Regions from separate parts of the Homo sapiens genome. Here all the other regions are linked to region 1. Evidence: fine-mapped expression QTL. A gene starts in region 1. Each other region holds a variant in brackets. All regions are shown on one strand. Distances are between the middles of the regions. Region 1 holds the start of CDH23 (cadherin related 23). Region 2 overlaps CDH23 (cadherin related 23). Region 3 overlaps CDH23 (cadherin related 23). Region 4 overlaps CDH23 (cadherin related 23). Region 5 overlaps CDH23 (cadherin related 23). Region 6 holds the start of LOC105378356 (a long non-coding RNA gene). Region 7 overlaps PSAP (prosaposin).

What was found.
Region 2: its variant is fine-mapped to the expression of CDH23 in whole blood (INTERVAL, PIP above 0.99).
Region 3: its variant is fine-mapped to the expression of CDH23 in whole blood (INTERVAL, PIP above 0.99).
Region 4: its variant is fine-mapped to the expression of CDH23 in whole blood (TOPMed, PIP above 0.99). The same link has a PIP of 0.9 or more in CD4 T cells.
Region 5: its variant is fine-mapped to the expression of CDH23 in whole blood (TOPMed, PIP 0.96).
Region 6: its variant is fine-mapped to the expression of CDH23 in tibial artery (GTEx, PIP above 0.99). The same link has a PIP of 0.9 or more in aorta.
Region 7: its variant is fine-mapped to the expression of CDH23 in whole blood (INTERVAL, PIP above 0.99).

Annotation. Positions count from the first base shown.
Region 1 is chr10:71,394,599-71,399,117 of GRCh38, reverse strand. It overlaps CDH23 (cadherin related 23), which reads right to left and starts at 2,198. Exons shown (of 70, transcript NM_022124.6): 1 at 1,800-2,198. RefSeq lists an enhancer at 1,395-1,906 and a silencer at 2,590-2,679.
Region 2 is chr10:71,774,524-71,778,523 of GRCh38, reverse strand. It overlaps CDH23 (cadherin related 23), which reads right to left. Exons shown (of 70, transcript NM_022124.6): 39 at 623-844; 40 at 216-335. Among named protein-coding and RNA genes, the nearest start is that of VSIR, 3.0 kb to the right of the region's middle. RefSeq lists a silencer at 363-518. The variant C/T (reference allele first, on the strand shown) is at 2,092.
Region 3 is chr10:71,785,371-71,789,370 of GRCh38, reverse strand. CDH23 (cadherin related 23) reads right to left here. Exons shown (of 70, transcript NM_022124.6): 44 at 3,633-3,740; 45 at 329-431. Among named protein-coding and RNA genes, the nearest start is that of MIR7152, 3.4 kb to the left of the region's middle. The variant G/A (reference allele first, on the strand shown) is at 2,186.
Region 4 is chr10:71,739,209-71,743,208 of GRCh38, reverse strand. It overlaps CDH23 (cadherin related 23), which reads right to left. Exons shown (of 70, transcript NM_022124.6): 36 at 3,437-3,565; 37 at 2,259-2,387; 38 at 1,288-1,515. Among named protein-coding and RNA genes, the nearest start is that of C10orf105, 21 kb to the right of the region's middle. The variant T/A (reference allele first, on the strand shown) is at 1,761.
Region 5 is chr10:71,704,923-71,708,922 of GRCh38, reverse strand. CDH23 (cadherin related 23) reads right to left here. Exons shown (of 70, transcript NM_022124.6): 25 at 3,793-4,000; 26 at 1,874-2,026. Among named protein-coding and RNA genes, the nearest start is that of C10orf105, 13 kb to the left of the region's middle. The variant C/T (reference allele first, on the strand shown) is at 2,022.
Region 6 is chr10:71,470,317-71,474,316 of GRCh38, reverse strand. All of the region lies in intron 3 of CDH23 (cadherin related 23), which reads right to left. LOC105378356 (a long non-coding RNA gene) reads left to right here and starts at 263. Exons shown (of 3, transcript XR_946055.3): 1 at 263-417; 2 at 701-905; 3 at 1,028-1,439. The variant C/G (reference allele first, on the strand shown) is at 2,082.
Region 7 is chr10:71,822,069-71,826,068 of GRCh38, reverse strand. PSAP (prosaposin) reads left to right here. Exons shown (of 14, transcript NM_002778.4): 7 at 176-232. Among named protein-coding and RNA genes, the nearest start is that of PSAP, 27 kb to the left of the region's middle. The variant CA/A (reference allele first, on the strand shown) is at 1,877.

The DNA.
Region 1 (4,519 bases):
TCAAATAAATGAACCTCAAATGGTGAAACTGCAGGTAAGGTAGCTTGTTGAGTGGGGGAGCTATTCCAGAGGCAACCAGGACCATCTGCTATCACAACCCTCAAATCAAGCCCTTTGGTAAGCAGACGTGAGGAGCCCAGCTGTTTAGAGGTGAGGAAGGCCAAGTCTGAGAAGTATATGCGGACCCAGCACAGACGGGGCCAGGATGCTAGCTCTGGGCCTCCCACCCCTCACTGCTGTCCTCCAGCACTCGAGGCAGAGCTTCCTGGTTCACACCAGTGGCTTCTGTGTGCCACCTTCCCAACTCACGGGGGACACCCACCCTCTACCACGAGACACTCTGCCTTCCTGCCCTCCCCAGCCCTGGCAGCCAGAACCAAGCCTTGCTATTCCCCCAGGCAAGGGGCCCCTTCCCAGCTCCTCCTTGGCAGAGTAACATCTAGTGCCCCCACCCCTGTAGGTGCTGACCGCAGTGCGCCTACCCCTGCACCACGAACCAAGCACTAACTCCAAGCCAGCTCTCCCCATCGTGGGCTGACTCATCATCACCATGCAACTGGCCCCAACTAGGTTCTTAAAGCCCGCCCCACCCCACACCCCACAACCTAATTCTTCCCTGTGTGAGGGTCTGACTCCACCCAACACACACACACACACACACACACACACACACACACACACACACACACTCCTGTGTCTCTCTAGCTTATTTCAAAATCCAAATTAGGGTTGGGGCACTTCCCAAGGGGCTGGAAGGCGAGGTCAATGTCAATGCCAGCTCTGGTCTGAGAGGGCAAAGGACGTAGAAAAAGAAGGCTCTGCTTTCTGAATTACTAGGGAGGATGGGGGAGTATTACTACCGAGGAAAGGCTAATTTCCTCCCAGTGGACCGCTGACAGCACTAGGGCTGGGGCTGGGGTCGCAGTGGGGCGGCGGCTGGCATCGGATCTCCGCTCACAGCACGGAGGCAGCCTCTCTAGGTGCCCGCTCCGAGAAAGCCAGGCAGAGTCCCCGCCGGCTGGCGCCGTCACTGCCTTGGAACACGCGGGCTCTGCTCGAGTCCTGGGCTGACCTACGGTGGAGATGAGGGGCAGTGCTCCCGGGTGCCAGCTCCTGGGGGCAGCCAGCACCGCTCGTAGCGGACCAGTTCCAGGGCCAGGAAGGCGAAGCGAGAGCCGCAAAAGGCTCCCGGCTCCTCGAGGGGCGCGTCTTCCCATAGCTGGACCGAATTTGGGAGGATGTGTAAGTCCCCTGGGGTCTCCCGCGGGCACAGGGACTTGATGAGGGGAGGGGAGAACTACGTGCCTTTAGTTCCCCTCAGCGCCTCTGCCCAGCCCGCAGTAGGGGTGCGCCCCACCCCATCCCCACTGTCCAAATGGGGACCCAGGGCTCAGAAGGGGAGGGGATTGGATCCCAACGCGCTCCACTCTCGAAAATCTCTCCACCCCAGACCTGGACCCTCTCCGTAGCGCCGAGAGCAAAGCCCCCAAATGTTCGCGGTCCCAGGACCGGGGATGGGGGATGGGATGCCTGTCCTCCCAAGGCCAACGCGAATGGAATTCGAGTTCCCAGGAATCAAAGTTGCCGCGCGTCGGGGAGCTCGGAGCGGGGCGCGAGGCTAGGGCCAGGGGCCTGGGACCGAAGGATGCCGCGAGCGCCCGCCACGGGCGATGGCCGCGCTGGGAACAAGTGGTTCGGCAGCCGCGGTCACCACCAACTTCCCCGCCGCGCGGCGGGCGAACGGCGAGGGGAAGGAGAGGGAAGCGAGGAGGGAAGAGGCGGTGCGTGGCTCCGGGTACCGTGTGCGTGTGTGCAGCGGCGCCGCGCCTCGCCTCGCCTCGGGCTCTGCTCTCCGCCGGATCGGCCCCCGCGGGCCGCCTGCTCTGGCCCTGGCCACCGCCGCGTCTTCCCGCCGGCGCGAAGGCTCATCCGCGGCGTGCCGGCAGCTCCTGGGTCTCCGCGGGCCGCTCGCCGCTCGCCGCTCGCCGCTCGCAACTTCAGGCGCGCCGGGGGCTCGGACTGGGCGCGCCCCAAACGTCCAGAGGCTCTGCCACCCCGCGCTCCATGCCCAGGCCGGGCTGACTAGCCCCGACCACCTCAGCGTCCGGCCGCCGTCGGACGCGTCCTCTAGCCAAGCATCGCGCCTGCAGCCCGCGTCCCTCTCTCCCGAGCCGCCGCCGCCGCTCAAGTCCGCGATCAACTTTCCCTTGCTTCCCCCGCCCCGCTCGGCCCCCGCCCCGCTCGGCCCCCGCCGTCCAGACCCCGCCTCCCGCAGCTCCCTCCCTCACCTCCCGCCTCGCCCGGCCCCCGCCCGCCCGCCCGCGCTCGGCGCTCCCCCACCCCTCAGGCCGCCAGGACCCCCGAGCTCCCGCCCGGCCCCGCCCGGACCCCCGGGAGCGGCGCCGAGCCCCGCCGGGCGCTCAGGGCATGAATATTTCAGTGCTGGCGAAGCTGCCCTCTGCCGATGTCATGGCACCGGCTGCTGTGGCAACTCTACGAATCCCCCAAAGGGGCAGGGAGGAAGCCCGCGGAAGAGGCCCCAGGTGCGAGACAGAGCAGTGCCCCGCCAGGCCGCCAGCCGTCCCGCAGAGGGGCGCGCAGGGGGATGGGGCCCCCAGCGTCTCGTCCGCCCCGCGCCTCAGGCAGAGCGAGGTAACGCTCCCGGGAAGCCCGGGCGGGCGAGCGGGCGCTCGGCCTAGGTGAGCCCGCGCCATCTGTTGGCTTTAAGCGCCCCCTCTCTGCTCCCAGAGTCGCTGAGCAGTCCCTCTAGTCCTTGGGGCCTCTTGGCCTACGCTTCTCTCCAACCAGCTGCCTTTGCCCACCCGACTCGTGCGCTCCCATCTGCGCCTCCTCCCTCACTAGAGCTCAAGAGGCCTCCAAGTGCTTAGAAATGGAGGACCCCGGGTTGGAGGAGACCCGTGAGGTCACTTAGGCGCCCTCACCCCTGCGGGAGCTCCGTCTGCAGTGCCCGAGTCATGGTCTCCCGGCTCCTTTTTGCACACCTATAGGGACAGAGACTTTATGGCTTTCTGAGACAGCTGGATCAAGAAAGGGTCCATATGCAGGTAATGGAAGAGGTTTATCCCCTACCTTTGATCTTTACTTCCCCGGGGCTAAGCATTCTGATTTTTTAAAACTATTTCTCACATGACAGGATTTCCGAGCTGTCACTGTTCCAGTCAGTACATTGACAGTACCTGCCTGGAGCCAGGCTCTGGGCTGAGACTTTCTGGGCCTCAACTCATTCTATCTTCAATAAAGTCTTTCTGGTGGGCCCTGCCATTATCCCAGTTTTACAGTGAGAAACAGGCTTTAGGAGGTTGGGGACTTGCCCCTGTGGTGGAGTCGGGTATTGAACCCAGAATCTATCTGGTTCCAAAGCTCCAGTTCCTTACCATTCGCTCATTCATTATTCATTCATTCATTCACAGTCACTGCTATGTGCTAGCTAACTGAAATAGTTTCTAGGAATAGGATGGAGAACAAAACAGGCTTGGTCTTTGTGCCCCATGAAGCTTCTCTAGTAGGGGAACCAGACATTCATCAATGAAACACATAAGCAGGTAAAATTACAGCCAGAATCAGTGCTAGGAAGAAGAGTGCTTTAATGGCGCCTGGCCGAGGGGATCAGGGAAGACCTCCTAGAGGAGGTGACTGAGCTGAAGGATGAGCAAGGGAGAGAGAGTGGAGTTTTAGGCAGGAGAAACAGCATGTGCAAAGGCCCCAGGTGCCCACTGCAGGCAACGGCTGGGCCAGGAACAATGGTTTGGTGACCGCAGTCGCAATCAACTTGTGCAAAGGTGGGAAGGAGCTGGCATATGTCAGGAAGTCCAGAAAGGGTGGGGAGAGCTCCGTGCCTCCAGCGTACGAGGAAACGCTCCTGGGAAGCTTGGGAGGGTGAGTGAGCCTGCACCATCTGTTGGCTTTAAGCACCCCCTCTCTGATCCGAGTCACTGAGTGGTCCCTCTAGTCCTTGGCAGTGACTGTAAAGCCACAATGGAGTGGGGGCCAGACTGTGCAGGTGTGTTGGCCTTAATCAGGAGTTGATCTTTATCCTAAGACTGAAAGCTTCAGAGGCCGGGCTTGGTGGCTGACACCTATAATGGCAGCATTTTGGGAGGCTGAGGCAGTAGGATCACTAAGACTCTATCTAAAAAAAAATAAGAGAGAGAGAGAATTGATTGGGAGGCAACAGTTGATGAGAAGAGACTGCTTCAATTAAAAGTATTTATTTGTCAAATACTATGTGCCAAGAAATTTTCTAGACCAGGGGTGAGCACACCGCTACCCAGAGGTCAAATCTGCCTCATCACATGTTTTTGTAAAGAAAGTTTTAGTGGCACACAGACATGGCCTGTTTGGTTGTGTCTCCTTTCACACTACAACTACAGACATAAGGAATTTCAAGAGGGACCGCATGGCCTGCAAAAACAAGAAATATTTACAGCCTGGCCCTTTACAGAAAACGTTAGTTAACCCCTGTGAATTTAGACACTTTGGATATGTCAATGAACAACAC
Region 2 (4,000 bases), 380 kb before region 1:
CTTGTCTGACAGATGTAGCCACACAGGGAAGTTCAGTGACCTCGTTAAAGTCACACAGCAAGTTTGAGTGAGTTGCTGAGATTAGGACAGGGGTCTTGGATTTAGGCATTTCCCTCAGACAATCTTCCCCTAACCCCTTCCCGCATCGGAGCTTTCTGGGTCCCATCCTTCGCCAACCTCCAAGCCCAAGTTGGGGCTGTGTCCCATGCACCCACCGTGGTGGTAGAGGTGAGGCGGTGGGATAAGATGGGGCACTGGTCTGTGGCAGTGACGATCAGGGTGTAGCGGCCGTGGCTGATCTCGTAGTCCAGCTCTTTGGCAGCAGTGATGACACCCTGGGGGACACAGGGAAGGGACAAGGATGGATCTAGGGGTGGTAGGTCTGCAGCACCCTCTGACCAATTTGGGAAGTAGGCCCTGACATTGGAGCTGTGATGGGGAACCACTGCCACCCCCTAGCCCAGGCTCCACTCCACCAAACTTTTCATCCTCCCACACTGAGTGCCCCCACAGTTTCCCCTAGACTGCATCTTTGCTCCATCCCCCTCCAGTGTCACTGAACTCCTTGCCAATCCCTGGATAGGTTTCGCCCCTTGTCTTGATCCTGCCATCAGCTGCTGACCATGTGTCTGTCGATGCGGAAGGTGTTGACGATGTTGCCTGCGACGATGGCATAGGTGACTGTGCCGTTGGGACCCTCATCCAGGTCCAGTGCCTGGATGGTGATGAGGCTGGTGTTGAGCGTGTCTGGGCCCTCATCCAGCAGCACCTCATAGTGGGGCTGCTGGAACATGGGCGCGTTATCATTCTCATCCACAATGGTCACGTACACGTGCGTGGTGGCCTGTGGAAAAGAGTGGGTCACGTCCTTGGTCAGGTGGCCAGAGGGACCAAGGTGGATCCAGATGGCTGTTCTCCTGGGCTGAACTCACTCCATGTGACTCAAACAGAAAGGGCAAGGAGAAGAAAGCAGGGGGTGGGTCACAGGCTGGTAGAGAGAGAAAGCTCAAAAACTCCACCAAAAGCCAAGTAAGGTAACTGCTCTGTCCAAGATGGCACTGGCACCACCACTCCTATGTCTGCGACCCCCAGCAGACATCACTAATCAATCACAGAACTGCTGAGGCCAGATGCAAACTTGGGATCCTTGTTAGCACAGTGGTCTAGTGATTAAGACTGGCATATGGGATGAACCCTGGTAGTCACCCCAGCTCAGAGCTTTACGAGGGCCTGTGTCTTATTGAGCCTATATGTCCTGCCAGACTACAAGAGGCAAGAATGTGAGGCACTCGGCCCAATGCCATATTTAACCTTCATCTATTGTTCATGTAAATGAAAGAAATACATATTTTCAGCATTTCCAGAAGGAGGACATTGGGTTTGTGGCAATTTCGTGGGCAGAACTTGTTGACCTGTGAAAAATAAGACTCACAGAACATAACTTCATTCCAAGAACAGCTTCTACAACATACTCTCCTGTGATCGGCCATCTCTGCCAATGCTTGAGTCAATTGGACCACAAGTAATATTCAGCTAATCAGAACTCGGCAATCAGCACTCAAGAATCAACTAGAAATGGTTCTTGCTCCTGCTTCCTGCCTTTCTCCACCTGGGAAGATGTCCCCTGTGGACTAACTGCCTTACCCTGGCTCCCTTGCTATCCAGCTTCCTGCTGGGTGTGGCCAATGGGAGGCCCTGGCTGAAGATGAAAGCAGTGGGGAGAAAGAGGCGGGGGTGTTTCTTCCACACTCCCTCCATTCCTCACTGCGGTTCTGCCCATGGCTGTGTTTCTCCTGCTTGGGGACAGGGGTCCCCCTTTCATAGCACCAGCTTTCACTGGGCTCCAGAACATCACTTCCTCTTCTTTCCCTTTGGACATGTGAGTGGTAGTGGCTTCCTGTGGTTGGTGCTAGTCTCTGGGTGCTTTACCAGCCTTCCTAAACAGTCCCTGTATTAAACTCTCTTCAGTTGAACCCTTTCTGAGTGTGCCATCTGTTTCCTGCCAGGACCCTAACTAATACAAATCATAATGAGTGACTAATATAAAATAATAAGGTGTTAATCACTGCAAAGGTGTCTGGGTAGAGAGAA[C/T]GTGACTAGGCCATTGCCAGGCCAGAGAACAGAAAGCAGGTGGTACAGACAACTCAATGTAGGCAATTTGCATATGGTTTTTTCCTTGGGACTGGCTGGCTCTGGAGCTACCACTGGAAGAATGGACAGATGGGCAGGGGATCTGGACCCAAGAAGGCTGTCACTGCCCCTGAGGAGGCAATGATTCCTCTGATATGCAGCTCTGGATCTTGGGGGTGGAGGGCATTGGGTGTTTGCTGAAACGGTTTCCAAAGCAGATAGGGTTGGCAGCCTTGAAAAGGAGCTGCGTGGCCTTGGGCAGGTCACATCCCCTCTCTGGACCTTTTCTGTCTGTTTAATAAAGGACCTGGCTTGATTTCTAAAGTTGTTTCTAGCTCAGGGAGTTTGGGAGGTGAGTTTGGGAATGTGGGAAATGTCAGCATCCCCTCCCCAACAGGGAGGCTGGAATTCAGCCCCTTTCCTGCAATGTGGTGCTCTTGTATTCTTGCCGGCAAGTAAGGGGACTCAGGAAGGCTCAAGGCTGGGCCCCTCACCAGTAGAGAGTACTCACAGCTGCCTCCAGGCCCTGCAGAGCCACAAGATGGACATGGTGGCTTTCCTTGACAGTCATCTTTATTCGAATATTTGGGGCCTTCACCACTATTTTTAATGAAAACAAGCACAAACACATGATGGAGTGTGCAGGCTGCAGGGGCTGGGAGTGGAGAGTTTGAACAGAGTTGGGCCTTGGAGCCCCTCCTGCTCTGAGACCAGGTCTGGGCTTGGGGAGGGAAGGTGGGTTTGACTTCCTCTGGTCTCGGAGGGAGGAGAAAGTCAGTGCTCCAAAGGCCCTCTCAGCTGAGCCCTTCCTGTCCTGCCCTGGTGTTGAGGAAACAGTGCTTGAGGTTTCTGGACCATGGTCCTTGGGCAATGCCTGTGTCTCACCCTGATGCAACCCCAGGAGGCTCAGTGGTGGGCAGTGTGGTAGGGAGAAAGGAAGTGAAAAGGGGGGAGGGAACTGGGCCCAGCTCAGAGGCTCTATCCCCCTGGGGAAGGGGTTGGCAGGGCAATTGCTCCCCTTTCTCTAATTCCAGGCCCTCCCCGGCTGCTAGGCCCTGGGGAAGAGGGAGTCTGGTTTCAAGGGTGTCCTGAGCAAAGCCAGTCCAGGAAGGGTTGAGATGGGGTGGTGCTCTAGGATCTTGCCCTTAAGGGACCCCCCTCACTTGCCAGAGGATGTCAGGGTGAGAAGGGCCCGGTGTCCACCTGATCTCAGTTGGCTTTGTACCTCCCCTGGTGGAAGGGAGCTCATGCTATGCCAGCAGGAAGGGCCCTGGGCTGCCTTCCAAGGTGGGGTCACAAGGCCAGGAGCATGCCCAAGGACCTGGGTTATGTCCTGCCAGCCTCTGGGGCTCCCATCCTGGGGAGTTCACTGGCTCCAGGGGGACTGGGCCTGCACAAGTTCACTTAGTAATAACATGATGCCTCAGCCTTCCTCTGTTGTAGCCTTCCCTGCCCTTAGAGCAAGGGCTAAGGGCCTCCAGAGAGCCCGTGACTTGGATCAGGCCACCCACAAGGCCCCCAGGACTCCTGGCTCCCATTGAGTCCTGATACCCTGGTTCCTGACCCAGTCAGACTCTGAGTGTCCTCTGCCTCTCAGCCTAGGAGTCACCTATTAACCCAAGATCCCTAAAGTGCCAGAAAAACCCCTGGAAGCTTCAGCTAGACTGGGGTAAACTGAGTAAAATGGCTGTGCTCTTCCACTCCTGTGATCCCTGGTCCTGGCCACGATCACCTCTGCTCCTCCATCACACAATCACTCACTCACTCATTGGTTTGTCCATTCAGATAAAAGTGCAGTAAAACCTTCTCCACGCCCAGCTTTGTGCTAGGGTCTCAGAAACATCAGAGAGAGGTTTGTAGTTTCGCTCTG
Region 3 (4,000 bases), 390 kb before region 1:
GAGCAGTGAGGGGTGGACCCACTCCCCTCCGGGGTAGTCCTCACACCTTACATGCCCTTCTTGAGGGATGGTGGGGCAGCTCTCAGACCACCCTGGGGAACAATGACCACGACTGTCTCTTCCAACCAGACCTGTGGCTTCTTTGTGCTCATAGGAGGCCCGGGAGCCCCAGCCCACCATCTCCCGGAGCTGCACCCATCCTTCCCCTCCCGCACCCACTGGGGTCTAGGTTCAGCTATGCCGTTAGGCATAAGGGAGGTCCTCAGGCATCCCAGGCCCCAGTGGTGCCTGGCAACAGCAGGAGCTCCCGGGTGGGCCCAGCACCTACCAGCGGGAGAGTTTTCCATCACCTCTGCCTGGTAGGTGCTTTTAGTGAAGAGGGGGTGGTTGTCATTCTCATCAGAAAGGAAGATCAGAAGCAAGTCATAATCCTGCAAGGGGCAGAATGGGGCACGTTGTAGGCCATGCTCAGCAAAGTGCCCCCACCTAGGTGGGAGGAGGGTTGGGAGGTTGGGGATTGGGGCACAGAGGTGGATGATCAGAAAAGCCCACACCAACATGAACTCACATTTTTCAAAAGAAGACATACAAGAGGGCAACAAACATGAAAAAATGTGGCCGGGTGCAGTGGCTCATGCCTGTAATCCCAGCACTTTGGGAGGCCAAGACGGGCAGATCACGAGGTCAGGAGATCGAGACCATCCTGGCTAACATGGTGAAACCCCGTCTCTACTAAAAGCACAAAAAATTAGCTGGGCGTGGTGGCACGCACCTGTAGTCCCAGCTACTTGGGAGGCTGAGGCAGGAGAATGGCATGAACCCAGGAGGCGGAGCTTGCAGCGAGCGGATATCACGCCACTGCACTCCAGCCCAGATGACAGAGCAAGACTCCATCTCAAAAAAAAAGAAAAAAAGAAAAAATGCTTAGTGTTGCTAATCATCAGAGAAATGCAATAAGCCACAGTGAGGTACCCTCTCACACCAGTCAGAACGGCTATTATTAAAAAGTCAAAAAACAACATGCTGGGCATGGTGGCTCACGCCTGTAATCCCAGCACTTTGGGAGTCTGAGGTGGGCGGATCACTTAAGGTCAGGAGTTCGAGACCAGCCTGGCCAATATGGTGAAACCCTGTCTCTACTTAAAATACAAAAAAATTAGCTGGGCATGATGGCTTACACCTGTAATCCCAGCTACTTGGGAAGTTGAGACAGGAGAATCGCTTGAACCCAGGAGGCAGAGATTGCAGTGAGCCGAGATTGTGCCACTGTACTCCAGCCTGGGCAAGAGAGCAAGACACCATCTCAAGAAAAAAACAACAGACACTGGTGAGGATGCAGAGAAAAGGGAATGCTCATACACTGCTGGTGGGAATGTAAATTCCTTCAGCCACTGTGGCAAGCAATATGGAGATTTCTCAAAGAACTAAAGACAGAATTACCCTTCAATCCCACAATACCCCTCTACTGGGTACCTGCCCAAAGGGAAATACATCGTTATATCAAAAAGATACTTACACTCACATGTTTATCGCCACACTATTCACAATAGCAAAGATATGGAATCAATGTAAGTGTCCATCCACAGAGGACTGACTAAAGAAAATGTGGTATATAGACCATGGAATACTACTCAACCGTAAGAAAGAGTGAAGTCGTGTCTTTTGCAGCAACATGGATGGAACTGAAGGCCATTATCCTAAGTGAAATGACTCAGAAATAGAAAGTCAAATATTGCATATTTTCACTTATAAGTGGGAGCTAAATAATGTGTAACCATGGATATACAGAATGGAATAAGAGTCATTGGAGACTCAGAAGGGTGGGAGGATGGGAAGAGGGTGAGGGTTGAAAAATTATTTATTAGGTACAATGTTCACTGTTCAGTGAGTGGCAGTGAGTTCACAGTTCAGTGAACATTGGACATAATAGGTAGTTTTGGGTACACCTGATGGGTACACTAAAAGCCCAGTCTTCACCACTACACAATATGGACATGTTAAGAAACCTGTGCTTGTACTCCCTGAATCTAAAAAAAAAAAAAAAAAAAAAATCTGAAAAGCGCCCACACCAGGGTTCAAAGACCTGGGTTGAAGACCCTATTCTGGGTGATCTTGGGTGCCTCATTTCCCCTGTCTGGGTCTCAGTTTTCTAGTCTGGCAAATAGGGATTTAACTCCTTCACGGA[G/A]GTGTGGCAAATGGGATTGAATCCTGTTCCATCTCACTTCAGGCGGGAAGATGAGTCCTGTTTCTCGACCTTCAAGGCCTTCCTGTTGCCCTGGCTGGAGTTCATTCAAACTCTGCCAGTGCCTCACTTCACACTCGCAAACCTCAGAACCTCCAGTACCCCTGTGCACTGTCACCACCTCAGAGACAAGGGAACCAAGGTGCAGAGATGGGGAGTGCCCATTCAGAGCCAAGTGGTGAGTTAGCAGCAGAGTGGGGCTTAGCCCCTAAGCCCACCGAGTCCTGCCACTCAATGCTGCTTTTACCCGGGGCCCTCCTGAAGCCAGGCAAGGGAGAGGAAAAATGAGAGCAGAAAAGAGAAAAAGTGGGGGCAAAAATGAGGGAGTAGAAGCTGGGCATGGTGGCTCACACCTGTAATCCCAGCACTTTGGGAGGCTGAGGCAGGTGGATTGCTTGAGGTCAGGAGTTTGAGACAAGCCTCGCCAACATGGTGAAATCCCATCTCTGCTAAAAATACAAAAATTAGCCGGGCAAGGTGGCGTGTGCATGTAATCCTAGCTACTCGGGAGACTGAGGCACAAGAATCGCTTGAACCTGGGAGGTGGAGGTTGCAGTGAGCTGAGATCACGATTGCACCACTGCACACCAGCTTGGGTGACAGAGTGAGACTCTGTCTCAAAAAAAAAAAAAAAAAAAAAGAGTAGGAAGCAGAGGAGCACCACATGGGAGGGGCATGTAGCTTATGAGTTTCTCCAGCCTGACGTCTCCTCTGGCTAGACCGATAGGGAAACTGAGGCCCAGAAAGAGTGGTGCCTTGGCTGAGCCACACAGCTAGTCAGGGGCAGAGCTGAGATGAACTGGGCCTGAAGGCTTCTGGCTAGGAATCTACCACAGATTCATGGGCTGGAAGGACAGAGCTGACCCCCAACCCAAAGGGACTGTTTGCTTTGCAACATCCACCTCCCTTTAGTCAAGAGCTCATTTCTTTGGCTTCTGAGGGGAGAGCCACCTGGAAAACGCAGCCCTTCCAGGACCTCAGAGCATGCTTGTGGGTGAATGCAGGCCCATGTGCCCCATGCACAAATGCAGTGTGTGTCCAGGTATCAGTGGTTTGGGGAGGAAACAATGATAGTTGATGTTCACTGAGTGTTTGTCACACTCCAGGCACTGTGCTGAGGCTTTCACATATATTGGCTCCTTCATCCTTTCTACAACTTTGGGGTAGGTGAGATCTTCATTTTGCAGAAGAGAAATGGAGGCCAAGAGGAGTTAACTAGCCAAAGCCACGCACCTACTGAAGGAGAGAACTGGGATTTGAAGCCAGCACGTGCTCACTCCAAAGCCTGTGCATCTAAGCCTGGCTATGCTGCCTGCAGGAGGGGTGATGTGTTCTCTCTCCATGCGCCTCTAGCTCCCAGCCCACTCCCACCAGTGCCCTCCAGTCTCACCCTCCTGGCTATGCGTGGATTCTCCGGGTTGTCCTTCACAGAAATGGTCAGCTTGTACTCTGGGATCCGCTCGCGGTCCAGGGGCCGGTTCACAGTGACGATCCCTGTCTGGGATGTGGAGGGTGGTGAGCTGCATGGAGACCTTTTCCCTGCTTTCTACTTTGGCCCACAGATGCCAACTGCTCTGCTTGGCCTCCCTAAATTGCCTAAGAGATGATCTAGAAGGCCAAAAATGTGGGTCGGCAGGGTCTCGCCGGGGCGAGAGTGACCCACTCATGCCCAGGCCTTGCTGCTTCTGAGAGATGGCCCTCGGAGGACCCCATGGTGTTGTTGGCCATCTACAGACACCTCAAGAGGCTAAGTGAGAA
Region 4 (4,000 bases), 340 kb before region 1:
TGTGACTTTGTAGCTCATTCCTTCAGAAGGTAGAGTTTATTTTCCCATAGCTTGAGTCTGGGCTGGCCTTGTGACTTGCTTTGGCCAACAGATTGTGGTAGAAGTGACCTTGTGCCAGTTCCAAGCCAGGGACTCAAGAGGCCTTGCACGCCTCTGCTGTCTCTTCTGGACACTTTCCAGCCCCATAAGAACAGGCACGGGCTAGCCTTCTGGAGGATGAGTTGTCCCTGTCACCCCAGCTGCTGGCGAGCCAACCCTCAGAAGCATAGCACCCTGCTGACAGGCAGCTGCCCACATACAAATGCAGAAGCCCAGCTGAGACCAGAAGAACCACCCGGCTAAGCCATGTCCAGATTGCCAGCCTGCAGAATTAGCGCTAACTATGTGGTTATTGTTTTACTCCTCTGTTTTGTTTGGTTTGTAAGGCAGCATTATTGTGGCAATAGAGAACTAATAACAGTCCTCTTCCTCCTCATGGTTTACCAAGTGCTTCCACAGACATGAGCTAATTTGATTCCCCAAACAACACCTATGAGGTAGATATTATCTCCCTTTTGCAGATGACAAAAGCGATATGCTGAGAGGTTCTGACTTGCTCAAGATCATGCAGCCAGCCACAGTGCTCCTGACTCCAAATTCCCTGCTTTCAGTTTATAAGCCACTCCCAACACAGCTCATCAGCTCCTAGAGATCTCCATCCAGCCCTTGAGGACCACAAGTCCTTCCCTCACCTGGCAAACTTTGAACATTGCCTTGGGCAGTGGTGCTGTTCATTCGAGCGTTAGTGTGAACCACAGACACGAATCCCTTCCCACCCTGACGTGTTGTGACAGCATGCCACACCACACAATGTAGGGGAAGAGGGCCAGAGAGGCACCCTTTCTGTAAGACACCACCATGCACATTGGTGTGACCTCACAGTGCATAGGTGGGCAAGTGAAGCGGGGGCTAGATTCATACCCACTTGCTCCCTGGGCCAGGCCCCAATACAGAGGCTCAACCTGTACCACCCCATAGAGCTGCTCTGTGAGAGAAAAGAGGACTAAACAGAGCTTCTGAGTAGCTATAGACTCGGGAGGCCAAACTAGCACCCCAGCTTTGCACGCAACAGGCCTCCGTAAGGGGAGGCCATCTTGGGCAGATGGACTAAAGGCAGATGGACTAAAGGAGTTGTCAAGGATTCGCCTGCTGTGTGGAATTCCATTCTCACCCATCTTGTTCCCCTCACTCGGAGGCGGAGCTGCCCTGGCCCACCCGCTCCTCCCTGTGGCCACCCCCATCGCTCACCGACAGGGTTGGGGTGCCCTCGTCCTCCACAGTGGCCACCAGGTGGTAGAAGCTCTGGCGCTCGCGGTCAGGCGGGGCAGGCCGTGTGGCGATCTCACCGCTGATGCGGTCCATGCGGAAGGCCATGTCCTTGTTGCCCTCGGTGATGTAGTAGGACAGAACACTGTTGATCCCGATGTCACGGTCAGTGGCTCTCACCTGGACCACAGCAGTACCTCCACCCACGTTCTGGGAGGAGAGCAGGAGAGCAGTCATTCTGGACTCAAGGCATTGGGGCACAGTCTGGCACCTGCTCCTGTAGCCCGAAGGCTCCCCCTGTACCTCCCAAAAGCTTTGCTGCATCTACCCCAGAGCAATGATGGAGATAATAAGGATGATAGCAGCGAACATTCTGTGAGCACCTCTGATATGCTGGGGCCTGCATTAACTCACTGGGTCCTCTCTCCAACTCTGTGAGTTAGGTACTGGCATCA[T/A]CATCCTCATTTACAGAAGAGAAAACTGAGGTGCAGGGAAGGAATGTGTGCAAGTCCACACAGCCAATCAGTGGGCTGAAGTGAGGGAGTCTGGCCTGAGAGCTAGACTCTGGCCACATGTCATCCTGCCTTCATGAACGTCCAACCTAGCATGATACCCAGCAATGCCAGGGCAGATTGGAGTGGCTCAGTCTTAGGGCTGAATAATAAATACATTTTTTAAAAAAGCAAGCTCCCGGGGTAAACCTCAGTTTCCTGTCTGGTGAAAGGCAACTTTCTTCTTTTTCTCTTTTCTCTTCTCCTCTACTCCAAAAAGATACTGCATTCTAGGATCCAGGCTAGGCGTTAGGGCTATCACTACGAATGAGCCACAGTTCCCATCCATGAGATCTGAGGGACCAGTGGGCCAGGCAGACATTTAAACAGGGGCTGCATGGTTGGCTCGTGCCCACGGTCCCCCCGTATGTCCAGCTATATGGGCCCCGGGGCTGCCCTCACCTCATTCACACTGACATTGTATCCAAAGGGGCTCTCGATGACTGGAGGGTTGTCATTGATGTCCAGGATGGTCACCTGCAGGATGTGGTCCTTCTTCCGTGGAGGGGTGCCTCGGTCAGAAGCCACAACCTGCAAGGAGGAGGGCAACTGGAGTCAGGGCTAAAGCGTGGCGGGCAGGATTGGGAATATGGAGTCCAAAAGGGCTGTGCAATCAGTGGGGAGCATTTGGGAGGGCAAAGAGACTCACTGAGAACCCCTGGGTGGCCTGGCCAGCCCTGGGCTCTCCCGGCCAGCCCTGGGCTCTCCCCAAAGCCTTCACCTTCTGCCCCATGCTGCAAATGATTCTTGCCCAATCGTCGTCTGACTTGGGATCCTCGTTTGGAATCTGATTAACATGTACCCAAGCCTTGACCTCCTGACCTACCTCTGACTGTATTCTGGGCTGTGCCAGCCTTTGACCATGACCCTGGGCCTGCAACCTGACCCAAGGCTCCTGTCTTTAGCTTCAAAGGCCTCTGTCCCACGCACTCTGTCCCATGATCTCTGGCAAACGGGAAAAGAGCCTCAAGTAATATTATAAGCAATGAGCTGGCGCCCTATGGCTGAGCCTGTTCCTGGGAGCCTTGATGCAGTCATAAGTGCTGCAGGAGCTGAGCCCTCTGCAGAAGCGCAGTCCTGAGGTTCCCAGAAAGCCCTTGGCAAACATCCCAGCCATGGCCATTCTGCAATAATGATAGCCTTCGTGGCTCCTCAAGCCTGCACTTGCTTCTTCCCTCCACAGGGCAGGCCAGACGGGGATTTTTTTGTACATTGCATAGGTGGGGAAAATGAGGCCCAGAGTTAATAACCTGTCCAAGGCCACACTGTATTTGTAGAAGAGCTGGGGCTCTCCCAGCTCCACCAGGCTCTCCCTCATCCTCCTGGCTCTTACAGCAGGGGAAGACACCTCAACTACCTCCTCCTGGGTATCTAAGGTCCCTCCCAGGTTTCCCTATCCTGGGTCAGCCTCACTGTGCTCTTGGCCCCGATGGGTGCAGCTGGCCCCATGTTACTTGGTGACAGCAGGGGCACTGACCACCAGAGTGTGCTGATGGACAGGCTCTCTCCTGGATGGAGAGTAGTGACCGGTCTAGGCACTTAGCCAGTGGTCTCTCAGTCCAAGGGAGGCCAGGCCCCACCTGGAGGATGTAGTGATCCAGCTCTTCTCTGTCCAGGGGCCTGGCCACAAACACTTCGCCAATGGAGTCATTGGTGGTGACGATCTCAAAGGCCCCCGCGATGTTGCCAGAGGCCAGGGAGAAGACCACCTGTGGGGAGAAGAGAGGGTGAGGGGTGAGCAGGTGTGGAGGAGAGGTGGCCAGGTCAAGCCAAGGGGGACTCCCTGGTCCTCCTCTGCCCACGTGGGCCCTCTGTTGAGCAAGGGCTTTTGGGAGTGCAGTGTTTTAAGCAGAAGTGATTCATCTCCCTCAAAATGGGGGTGCAGGCCCATGGAGGTAGTGTAGCACCCATGGAAAGTTCCGGGGCTAGGAGATATCAGTATCCTGGCCTGGAAGAGTGGGGCTTGAGTCCCATGGCACTGACGTCTTCCCAGGGTAGAGGGGATTGTGCTCACGCTGCTGGGGTGGGCACACGCTGCGGCATTACCTGGACTCTACTTGGTTCTTACGGCAACCTTGACAGAAAGCAACTGTTCTCAGTTCACAGAGAGGAGGCTCAGAAACATGGAACAACCAGCCAAGGTC
Region 5 (4,000 bases), 310 kb before region 1:
CGGGGGTGCCAGATGCCTGGAATCCGTTCCTAACCTTCACGAAGCACCTCCTGTTTACAGGTACTTCATGCAGACCATTTCATTTAGCCTCCACCTCACAGAGGAGAACCCCTCACTCAGTGATGTGCCTGTGCCACTCTGGGTTTCTCCATGCGTGGGTCCCTGGGCTTATCCTTCACCCCTCTGCTCCCTGCCCGTCCTGCAGAAGCGTCTGAGCAGCTAACCTGCATAGGGGCTTGTATATGTTGCTGAGAACTCTGGGGTTGGCTGAGCATCCCCCAGGCCCCTCATCTCGGAGGTGAGATGGGCTGAGGAGCGAAGCTTCCTGAGTGGGGACATGGAGGCTCCACAGAGGGAGGAGTCAAGGCAGGTGTACAGGAGACAGGGATTACTGAGTCTCCTTGAGTTCTGGGACAGGTGGGAAGTGTGAGGGTCTCCTCTCGCGGTGGACGGGAGTCAGGAAGGAACTCCCAGAACAGCGTGGAGACCCCTCCCCTGCCAGCTGGCGAGCAGTGTGGTGTTCTGGGCAGCAGAGGGCGCCACGGCACCAGCTTTGTGGTGAGCTTGGGCAGGACTGGGCTCAGCTCCTTGCAGAATGTGCACTGAAAATCCGGGAGGGCTCTGGGCAGGTCAGCGGGAGCCCACCACTCTGGGGTGCTGAAGAGTCATCCTGCAGGCTGCCAGGTGCTCCCCCTGTTCTTGCTGGTTTGCCCCTAGGGAAAGCCTCCTGACCCCCAAACCTCCAGTGCTCCCCAGTGTCTGAAGTACCATCTGCAAGGGACACACTCTGACTCCCGGGGAGCCCAGGGCAGAACTAGGACGTAAATAGTGTGGGCAGTGGAGCCACGGAGCTGGTGCCATGTGAGGGGTCTTAGTAACTAAGCCCTCCCTAGGGCCGACTTGAGGGCCAGACTGTAAGGAGTGGGCCTGAGGGTGCTGGGCCCCTTCAGGGAGGTGAGGGAAGAAAGGGAAGGCTGAGGGCTGGGAGGTCACGTTGGCCGCAGCAAAGCCACAGATGGGCTGTGAGCTGGGCATCCTTGCTTCATGGGGAGGCATTGGGAAGGCTGGTGTGTGCCCTGCTCGTGTGTACAGGCACACATATGCAGAGGCAACATGTGTGTTGGTAGGCAGGTCATGGACAGAGAGAAGACTGAGCCAGTAAAAGGGCCAAAGAGGGTTGAGGAATGGGGAAGACTGCACCCCCATGTGTCCCAGCATCTCTCGTGTGTCGGGGAGGCTAAGAAGCTGTGTTCTCATCCAGGAATGGCAAACCCATGGCATGTGCGCCACCATCTACCAATCCTACCACTGTGGCAGACATCACTAATCCATTGCAGCTCACTTTCCCCTGTGAGCCAGGACATGGCCTCATCATCTGTGGCCACAGCTCTGCAGACAACAGCCAGGCAACATTTTTGAGCTAAAACCATTTCATTTAGGGAGATCAAAACCATCTGCCTCTAAACAGGTGGGAATTCTCAACAGGTCCCCAAGGAAGGATGAGGCCACATTCCTCCAAGTCACTGCTCTGTCACCCAGACTTGGGGCGGGGAGTGGGGCTCAGGGCTCCTCCCTAGGAATCATGGGGCCTTACCTCCCTCTAGAATGAACCTTGGTAGATGCTCCCCGTCCCTGCAACCAACAGGTTCAGGAGGTCCCCAGGGAGCCAGTCCAGAGTGATCCAGCTGCAAAGCCCTTGGGAAGAGCCAGGAGCAAATCCTCGGGAGGCACCACCAGAGGCTAAAGCCCAACAGTAGAGCCCTGACCTCTTTTCCACCCTCACCTGCCCCCACCTAGTCTGGCTGTCCATCTGGGAGGGGTGGAGGCAGGGCCCCAGGAGGCCTGCACAGGTGGGCGGAGGCCGGGGCAGCACCTGTGATGAAGTAGCTGAGCTCTGCATTGAGGCCCACGTCGTTGTCCGTGCAGTTCAGCCAGACCACCCGGAACTCGCGTGGCACGTCCTCGGACACAGACACATTGTACACGGCCGGGAAGAAGGTGGGCGTCTCGTCGTTCACATC[C/T]AGCACTGCGGGGCAGAACGGGCGCCGGGGCTAGGCCTGGCTTCTGCCGCAGAAGACCCAGCTCCAGAGCAGCGTCTCCAGCACCAGACCAAGTAGGGAATGAATTCCCAAGGGAGTCACGGGCTCCAAGTGGCATCTGTGTCAACACCTCCTGGCCATAAGCCCAGGGCCCCCCATGCCCACCGGGGCCAGGACCAGGCCCACCAGTGCTCCAGACCCTCCCGCTGTCCCTGTGCCCTGGGGGCTTATTGCTGCTCAGCTGTCAAAGGGAGGAGAGAAAACCTTAGAACCTCTCTCCAGTACGCACCTAACAACGACCATGGCAACACGGACAATCATGACAACGATGACGACAGTGACCATTTACGAGCTTGTCCAGCGTGCCAAGCCCATGCTGAGTGCTTCCCATACAGGACCACATGCAGCCCTCTGAGCACCCTAGGAGGTGGGCATTATTAGACACACTGTGGAGCTGAGGAAGCGGGAGCTCAGAGCAGCTGAGTGACTTGTCCAAAGTCACACAGTGGCACAGTGGAGGGCTGGAGCCTCAAGGTCTACCCTCAGCATGCAACGGACTTTCAGCAAAGGGAGCTCACTTTGAAAATCCCACCCCCCGAAATAAGGTTTAATTTCCCTTACAGATGTGTTTACTCCGCTCTGCATGCTAGGCCCCTATTCCTCAGGCAGATGGGGCTTGGACAACCTTCATAGCGAAGTGATCCCCACCCCACTTGGGTTCCTCTGAATGGTATCACCAGGAGAGATCCTGGGCCCATTTGATGTTATGGCTTCTGCTGAGTCTTGGAGAAAGGCCCTCCAGGGGTCCTCTCTTAAAGCTGGGACATATTCCCTGTCCATCATCGGCCAATAAGGGGGTCCTGAAACTGGCAACAGAAACCCACAGGCAAGCTTCGGACCAATGGGAGAGAGAATGTTGTGCTCTCTGAAATCCTCACCATCTTAGGTCTCAACTGAAGAGGGTCAGTGTCTGAGCCTGTGCTGAGCTAACTACACCCTCCCCCGCCCCCTACCATCCCATGGAGGCCAGCAGAGCTAGGATGGGATTGAACAGGCTCAGGGAACAGGCCATGTCTTGCCTGCTAAACTCTGCCCTTATTTCCCTGGGGTTATTCCTGGCCCCTTGGCAACAGCTCATGTCTGCATCCTGTCCTGAAAATTAAAGACTCATCCAGAGTGGAAACAGTACCCCGTCCCTTCACCAATAGAGGGCAGAGACACTGGGAATGAGCATGAGAGTCCCAGGGGGATGAGGATCTTAGGGAGTCTGGGAGTCCCAGCTGCTCTCTTCCCAGGGTGATGCCCTGCTACTGCCAGTCCAGGGGTTCCACACCCATGGGAGGGGGAGGTCTCCTTTATGTCTCCCAAACAAAAACTCTGGCCTTCCAAAGAAGACAAAGGGCTCTGCACCCTCCCTGCCTGTTCATGACCCTGAGGGTCCCGGGCCCTGCTCAAGCCCTCTCTGCTGTTGCCACGATCAGAGGCTAGGAGGGGTGGGGTTGATGGGGCTTTGGCAGCAGGTCCAGGCCACTGCCCCTGAGCTCTGGGGCACTGAAGGCAGTGGTCAGGTGTGGAGAAGGCTCTGCTGTGTTGAATGGCTCCAGCTGGGGAGGGCACCTCATTAACAAGGGAGCCTGTGCCTACAAGTCCAATAGACAGCAGTGGGGGACATGGGCTCCCCTCTACCCCTGCCCCTGACCCAGGCCTGTGCCCACACACTGAGCACACAGCAGAAGCCCCTGCGCCCCCTCACCATGGATGGTGAGCGTGCTGGTGGAGCTCTTGGTGGGCGTGCCTGCATCACTGGCCACCACCCGCAGCTGGTACTCCGCGATGCGCTCGCGGTCCAGCTCGGTGGTGGTGACCACCACGCCGCTGCTGCTGTTGATGAGGAAGTCCATGCGGGGCATGCCCACCGGCATGCGGTAGGACACCAGGCCGTTCAGGCCCTCATCGAGGTC
Region 6 (4,000 bases), 75 kb before region 1:
CAGACTGAACCTCCTGTTTCAAACTTACTCCTGGAGCTGATTGGCACATACTCTGACCCCTTCCTTAGGGATTTTCCCTTTGGCCCCACCCTGAGGGCTCCCTGGAGGTGAAGGCCACTGGACCCTCTGCAGAACAAGCTGGCCCTGGTGGCATGTGGGAACAGGCTGTACTGGCAGCTGGTGCCTCTGGCATTGTGGAGAGGAGGTGGGGGAGGGAGCGGGCACCAACATCCTGGACTCTGGAGCCTGGCATGAGAGCAGTGCCATTCCTAGGTTATAGATGAGCTAAATTAGCTGTGACGCTCATTAGCGGCAGCTCCTAATTAGTGAAAATTAATATTGGCTTTGATAAAGACGTCGGCGCCAGCTCTCCAAGGCAGAGGCATTATCATCCTTGTCAGCTGGGCTAACGACTGGGTAAGTGGAGGAGCCAGGGGGCCTGGGAGTGGGCAACAGGTCCCTGGGGAGGGAGCTTGATGCTCACAGGGGCCAGCTGTGGGCACCCCTGCCCACTGCTCACCTGACCCTCTAGTAGCCATACTGCAAGGGCCTGGCCCCACGTCTAGAGCTGCAGCTACAATCATCATCCATAATATTGTTGGGTTCTTCTGTGCCCCAGGCAGTGTAGCAAATGTTTTCACATGTATTTGATGATCCCAAGAATGTTGGAAGTAAGTACTTTTTTATCTCCATTTTACAGACGAGAAAAATTGAGGCTCAGAGAGGTTGAGGAACTTGCCCTGGGACCTCTGGATACCAGGATTTGGGCCCAGGCAGCCTGACTCAAGAGCCATGATCCTGACTTTGGTATTATCCTGCCCTTCCCTTCAACCTCACCCCCAAAAGGGGCACTCTGGATGCCAGCCCCATCGTATACCAGCACGTAACATCATATCCGGCACACAGTAGGTGATCAGCAAATACTTATGAATGAACACACAGGTGCACAGAGGGCCCTTGGTATTCCTCCATGGCATTTATATTGACTTTTTATGTCTTCCTTCTCCATCCACTTGATGCTGTGGAGAACCTGTACTTCCATTTACAGCCCCTGAGTAAGTCCAGGACAAAGTCTCCAGGCTCTGTATTCCAGAACACCGCCTCTCCAGTAGGGAAGACTCCGGGAGCATCCTGCCTTCCCAGGCGGGAATGGAGGCCAGGAGGCTTTGCCCAGACCTTGACTGTGCTATTGCCAAGTGACCAGCTCTGGGGCCTGGCTCCTCTGCCACTTGGGAGAGGACTCGGCAGATGGGCTTCCCTTCACCCCAGTCCCTGCTCCCCAGCCAGAGACCCTGAGTTCCAGCCCAGGGTAATGAGGGGAAGTAACAGATACACCTACTTTTAATCCAAATAAAGGAAAAATGTTTGCCACCATGGAGTTTATAAAAATAACAATGCATTATTCGGGTATTAATAACAATAAAGATGTCAAACTGTCAGATAAGAAGTTAATCTCATTCCGAGCACAATTAAAGATGCTATTTTCCCACCACCTGGGACCACACTGGAGTCTACCACTCAGCAGGCTTAATAGATAAAGGGCCATGCACAGAGCACAGGAGTCCTTGGCACTGCCAACCTGCCCTCCCACCACTTGCTGCCACCTCCAGACCCCTCCCTTGGCAACCCCAGCACAAGGGCTCAGGCCTCGCTTCGCTGTGGAGTATCTGGCAGGACCTTCAAGGCCAAAGGGCGAGGGCAGAGCAAGTTGAAGCCTGGCCCATGTGCCTGCCATTCACCCAGGCATTTCCTGGACAAGTGAATGCTGGGCCAGCACTGTACAAGCAGAGGGGACAGTCCCTGGCAGCTGGGCTGAGTGAGGGTCCAACCAGAAAGAAGGAGACACTGTTAGAGCTGCGAAGAGAGGGGATTTAACGTGGGGAATCGGTCACACGGGTGATAGAGGAGCCAAGAGGCCAAACAGGGCGGTGTGGTGACCCAGACAGAGGCCCAGCAGAAAGCCACACTGCCAGCCCTTTGCGGGAGGGACAAGGGAGGAGGTGGTGTTAACAGGAGCCAAGAGACACAAACTTTGGAGCTACCACCCGAGGAGAGAAGGAAAGAAACACCCTGGCTCCTCC[C/G]TTCCTCCCACCATCCAGTCTCCTGCCAGGGCCTCCTGTTGGCTAAACCCAGGCAGAAGCCAGCTGATCTGGGAGCCTGAGGAAGGCAGCCCATGGGGTCAGCTCCCCGCCACTCGGAGCAGGGCTGGAGGTGGCCAAGAATGGAGCTGAGGACAAACAAGCTCGGGACTGGCCCAGGTCCAGCCCTGAAACTGAATCACCTATCATCTGTCGAGCACCAGATCCATTCCAGGCACACCTGTAGATGTGGGGGACAAAAATACAAATTAGAAGTCACATTGACTCTCAAAGCAATTACCACCTATTGGGGGAAATAAGCATATAAACAGATGGTTTCCACGTAGGATGTGTGTACATGCTAAGCTGTATTACAGGCCATGAGTACAGAGGAAAGATCCCAAGGATGGAATCCCAGCAAAGCTTCCGGGAAGAGAGACGGCTTGAGATGCATGAAGGAAAAGAAAAAGGAAAGGAAACCTAGGGCAGGTGTACCAGGCCGCAGGAATGGCAGGAACAAGGCCCTGGGGTCAGAAACAACACGGCGTGGGATGGTTAGAGAGGGAGGGTTTGGGGAAAAGTTCTCACGGGGACACGTCAATGGGGGTGGCGCTGGCCCTCCTGGTGCAGCTTCCAGGGCTCAGCTGGGTCCACGCAACTGGAGTCCAGGAAGGTGGCTGGGCTGGAGACTGGGTATCACTGGCTTGGGGGTGGTCATAAAGCAAATATGAGGGAAATCGCACCACAGAGAGCACATAAAGGGGGCAGAGGGTGCGTGCCTGGGAAGCATCACTGCTGAGTGGGAGACGGAGACAGAGAAGGCACAATCACAGTGGTGGGAGAGAAGCAGGGGTCCCTGAGGAACACAGTTCCAGGTCGTGAGTGACCTGCAGGGTCAAATCCAGGGAAAGGTCCCAGGCATATACCATCTGCAACACATTTGCTGAACTCGGCAGAGTGAGAGCCACTGGCTGGCCTTAGTGGGTACCACGTCAGTGTTGTGGTGGGAGCAAGAGCCGGGCTGCGCGCAGATGGCAGTGCAGTAAGCCAGGGACTGCGGTCAAGAGTGGGCGAGTGCATGAGCTTGGCTGAAAGACCCGCAAAATTAAACTTCTGCTCTTCAAAAGACACTGCCAAGAGAATGAAAAGACAAGCCACAGACTGGGAGAAAATATTTGCAAATCATATATCTGCTAAAGGACTCAGATATATGAGTCCTTTATCTGTATATAAGGAACCCTCAAAACTCAATTATCAGAACATGAATAACTCATTTTCTAAACATGGTCAAAGATTTGAATAGCCACTTCACCAAAGTAGATATATGGATGGCAAATAAATTTGTACATGAAAAGATGCTCAACATCATTAATCATTAGGAAAATGCAAATAAAATGACAATGAGATACTATCACATAAGTATTAGAATGGCTAAAATAAAAAATAAGGGCCAGGCACAGTGGCTCATGCCTGTAATCCCAGCACTTTGAGAGGCCAAGGCGGGAGGATCACTTCAGCCCAGGAGTTAGACCAGCCCAGACAACACAGCAAGACCCCACCCATCTCTACAAAACATAAAAAATTAGCTGGGTGTAGTGGCACATGCCTGTAGTCCCAGCTACTCAGGAGGCTGATATGGAAGGACTGCTAGAGCCTAGGATGCTGAGGCTGAAGTGGGCCGTGATGGTGCTACTGCACTCCAGCCTGGGTGATAGAGCAAGACAAAAAAAAAAAAGTAAAATTAAAAATCAAATACGTCCCATAGTGGACATTGCTAGGGGGTAGGAGGAAGGGAGAATGAGAAGTTATTATCTAATGGGTACAGAATTTCTGTTTGGAACAAGTAAGTTGGTTCTGGAAACAGGCAGTGGTGATGGTTGCACAACACTGTGAATGTAATTAATGCCACTGAACTGTACACA
Region 7 (4,000 bases), 430 kb before region 1:
TGTCATTTTCATCTTATTAAAGCTGGCCCAGAGCAGACATTCATAAAATTCTACTTTAGAAACTTGCTTGATAGTCACCAGTTGACACTGTTGGAAATGCTGGGGGGTTTTTGTTGGTTGGGTTTTGGTGCATTGTTGCAGTGATTTGTTTAGCAATCTGTTTCTCTCTCCTCAGTGCAAGAACTATATCAGCCAGTATTCTGAAATTGCTATCCAGATGATGATGCACATGGTAGGTGGCACGGAGGCCCCTTGTTAGCATTTTTCTTTGTTTTTCAGGTTTCGTCATTTCTAGGAATTTTGAAAATTATATGGTTTAGTTTCCCTTTTTTACCTTAGAGTGCTGAATTGGGCTAAATCGACCCCTCTGGCTAGGAGACTCTCCACTTGCAATCTCAGTACCTCCCCTGTTACGGGAGAGGCAGGCTGAAGCATCTTGATCCCAGGACTGCCCTGGTGGCTTCCTGGCAATTTGTTTGCCTCTGCCCGTTCAGGCCAGCCATCAGGTTTCTAGGTCTGGCTTTAACCCTGGGATCTGTAGAAGTCAAGTGCTCTCTAACTAAGCCAGGCCTGAGAATGGCTGTGTTGCCACCTGAGTCGGGGGAATACTGCCTCCCGGAGTTTGTCCCGTGCATGGCAGCAGCGTCCGCTGAAGCTGCTGCTTGAGCTGGTAACTCCTGAGCTGGCTTTGGATGCATTCAGGTGGCAGGGGGCATTCCTTCATTAGAATCAAGAATACCCATTCAGGAAATGAGCTCGCTAGTCCACGCAGAGCAGGGCGGCCTGCTCACGTTGGGAACGGGCACTGCCTCCTTAGATCTGATTGGCAGGGCTGAGTGGGTGGGGGGCACCTTTTCCCTGTCTGTCATGCTTTCTGACTACTTGAGATTGACATACCAGCGTTTGAGTTTGTTCTCTGATCCAGGGGTCAGCAAACTGGCCCATCATGTTTTGTACTTAAAGGGTATTTTTTTGGAACACAGCGACGCCTGTTTTGTGCTACAGCAGCACAGTTGAGTAGTTGCAGCCAGATCTTATGGCCAAGGAGCCTGAAAGATTGACTCTCTGACCTGCTGTAACCACTCAAGCAAGCTGAGGAGGAGTAGTTTATTTGGGATTATTACTCACACCCTACCATGTTCTAAAAACAGTTAAAAGGCAGCTTACAGAGACATGCACCTGAAGTAGGTAAAGATAAGCATTGACGGGATTTAATCTCGTGAAGTACTTCCTCATAGCTAACTTAAAATATTTTTCTCATTATAAAAGTTATACTGTGTAGAAATGTGTTGAAAATATGGACAATACTTCCCACACAAAAATCATTTGGAGTTTCAGAATATATCAACGGGTTCATATATACTACCTTGTACTTTGTAGTTTGCATTTTTTGCCTAAAAATATGTTGGCCATTGAATATTCTTGTACAAATGACTAAATGCTTGCAGAATAATCACCTGTGTACATAGAAGAGAATTTACATAATTGGTCCCCGGTGGCCGGATGTATCTAGGTTGTTTTCAGGTTTGCCTTTGGGAAGATGAATATCCTTATAGCCAAATGCATACATATATGCATATCCCTGCCTTTCCCCTTATTATAGAGAACTAAAGCTGGAACTGCTGAATGGAAGCATGAGGCTTTGGATACATTGTTAAATTGGCCTTCCAGGCTGCCATTTGGCCACCTGCAGTAGATTGCCCTAGGATCCCTTACCCCTCAGGGATCCCTTACCCCCCTTACTTGGGCAGCCCTGTGTCTTGTTCTGTGGTGCTGCTGGTCACTAACCTGTGGGAAAGCCTTGTGGGCCCGGGGCCAGTGTGGGCTCCTGAGTATGGAGACCCTTCATCAAGCATTTTCTGGGGCTCTTGCTACA[CA/A]GTGTTTTGAGTGTGATTTAGTGTGTAAGACCTGGAGATGGTGCACACAGAGCAGGACAGCCCCCAAATGGTCTATCCCTGCAGGGCCAGGAAAGCTTTCAGGGCCCCCTTGTCCGCAAGATAGCAGGAACAAGGTAGGTTGCTAAGATCTGATTGCAAGAGCATTTCCCCTGAACCTCTTGGGACATCCTTACACCTGGTTAACTGCTTGATTGTTGTTTTAATTTTTCTTAACTGTTGTGTCCTTTCCTTTCTCTTATTTTCACCTCCGATTTCCTGTTTTTTTGTTCAACAGCAGGATCAGGTATGTGTCGGGGAATCTGCTTGCAGTAGTGGTCTGCTGCTTCCTCTAGTTACTTTGCTTTTTTTTTTTTTGGGTATGGCATGATTAGCTCTGACAGATACAAGGAATGGTTACGAGAGGCAGGCTCCCTCTCTGTTAATAGGCTGGGGAGGGCTTCTGCATCTCTCCCCTGTAATTCAGCCCTTGAGGTTTTGGGGGTCTCATCTCCCCTTCGGGGTCCAGTAAAATGAAGCCAGCAGAGCCTTGTGCTCTGGTCACAGTCCACATACAGCATACGTACATGCAGGCCACCAGTGTGACAATGGGGAACCATGGGTGGCCCAGGAGGTGCCTCAGCCTCCTTCAACGTAGGCCAGTTAGGAAGTCCAGTGTAGGTCTGGCTTCCCCAGGGCACCTTGTGTCTGTCACAACGCAAGTAGGCATTGCATGTCTTTAGTGCTGTTTTTCATAAACACAGAAATGCTTCTGCTGCATGAGCAAACATTTGCAGACAGCCAGCAGACTGTTCCTGGCTGTTGGATCCAGAGAATTGGAAACAATCTCTTGATTGTGGCTTCTGCCCCTCTGGGTAACAGGGTCCTTTGGGATCTAGAGCCACATCAGATGGCATGCTACAAGAACCAAATGCCCAGTCCATACTTGCTCTGAGCCAGTGTCCTTCGGGGCCGTCCTGAACACTGCCACCTCTGAGCGTTGGCATCCATCTGCTAGGATTAGCATTGGAGCTTTTTTTGAAGGTATTTTGAAGTCTAATGGGAGAGGACTTTGGTTGAAATACCTGAATTTTTACCTAGGCCTCCTCAAGGAGTTGGAACAAAGCTGATCGAGGCAGAAGCAGCCCTATACCTCCTGAATATTGGCGTCTTTTTTTTTTTTCTAAAAAGCTTGCTGTATCTTCAGCTGCGTTCTTATTATTTATTTATTTATTTATTTATTTTTCATTCTTAAGGTGTGGCAGAGACAGGGTATTTGGGATATACTTTTCAGACTCCCCCGGTCTTATTAATTCTCGAACCTTCTTGATATTAAAACAAGATGAGCCATAGTCATGGTCTAGCTCTTTTCCCTTAACAGGTCCTGTTTTTAGCACTTTTGTTCCTGCTGCTTTAGGGTTTGGTGCTGGAAGGCAAATGCACTCAGGCTCAGAGCTAGTTGCTGGTTGCATTTATTTCCACAATATACAGAGTCTATACACTTGTCTCACTCTTGGCCATCAGAGTGTCATGGTCAGGATGTCTAGACTATCTAGTGCTCTGTGTTTGGTGTCTAAATGGTGAAAGGGGATCAATCTGGAGACCTTGTGGCTTAAAATGATTCATCCATTTGGCGGGTTGGGTTTTCATGTGCACTGTGTGCAGCTTGAACATAGAATGTGGTTTTTTAAAAAGCCAGCATTTCCCCTTAATGCATCATTTTAAATGGTCCTGCCGCTGAAAAATCTGGTGTGGTTTTATTTCTAACACATTTGGCTTTCTGTTAGTTTATGGGCATGGTAGTTCCCCCTCTAGAAAAAAGCATAGCTTAGTTCCTACCTAGAGTGACCTGAAAAGACACATTCTAGAACAGACCAGGTGTCCTTGGAGATGTGGAAGGTGCTGGGGAGTCTCCCTCGTGGTGGCCCTGGATGGAGACTCTGTTTGATGTTCCTTAGGAGCTTTGTGTGGTCTCCTCCCCGAGATGTAACTGGCACATATGCACTGCTTCAGACACGAGCCCTTTAACATGGAAACTGGAATCTGCCCCGTTGTGGGAGGGGGAGAGGGAGGTAGCCTTGACCTGGGCCCAGGGTGCTGTCCAGCTCCCTGTCCTCTGGCTGGAT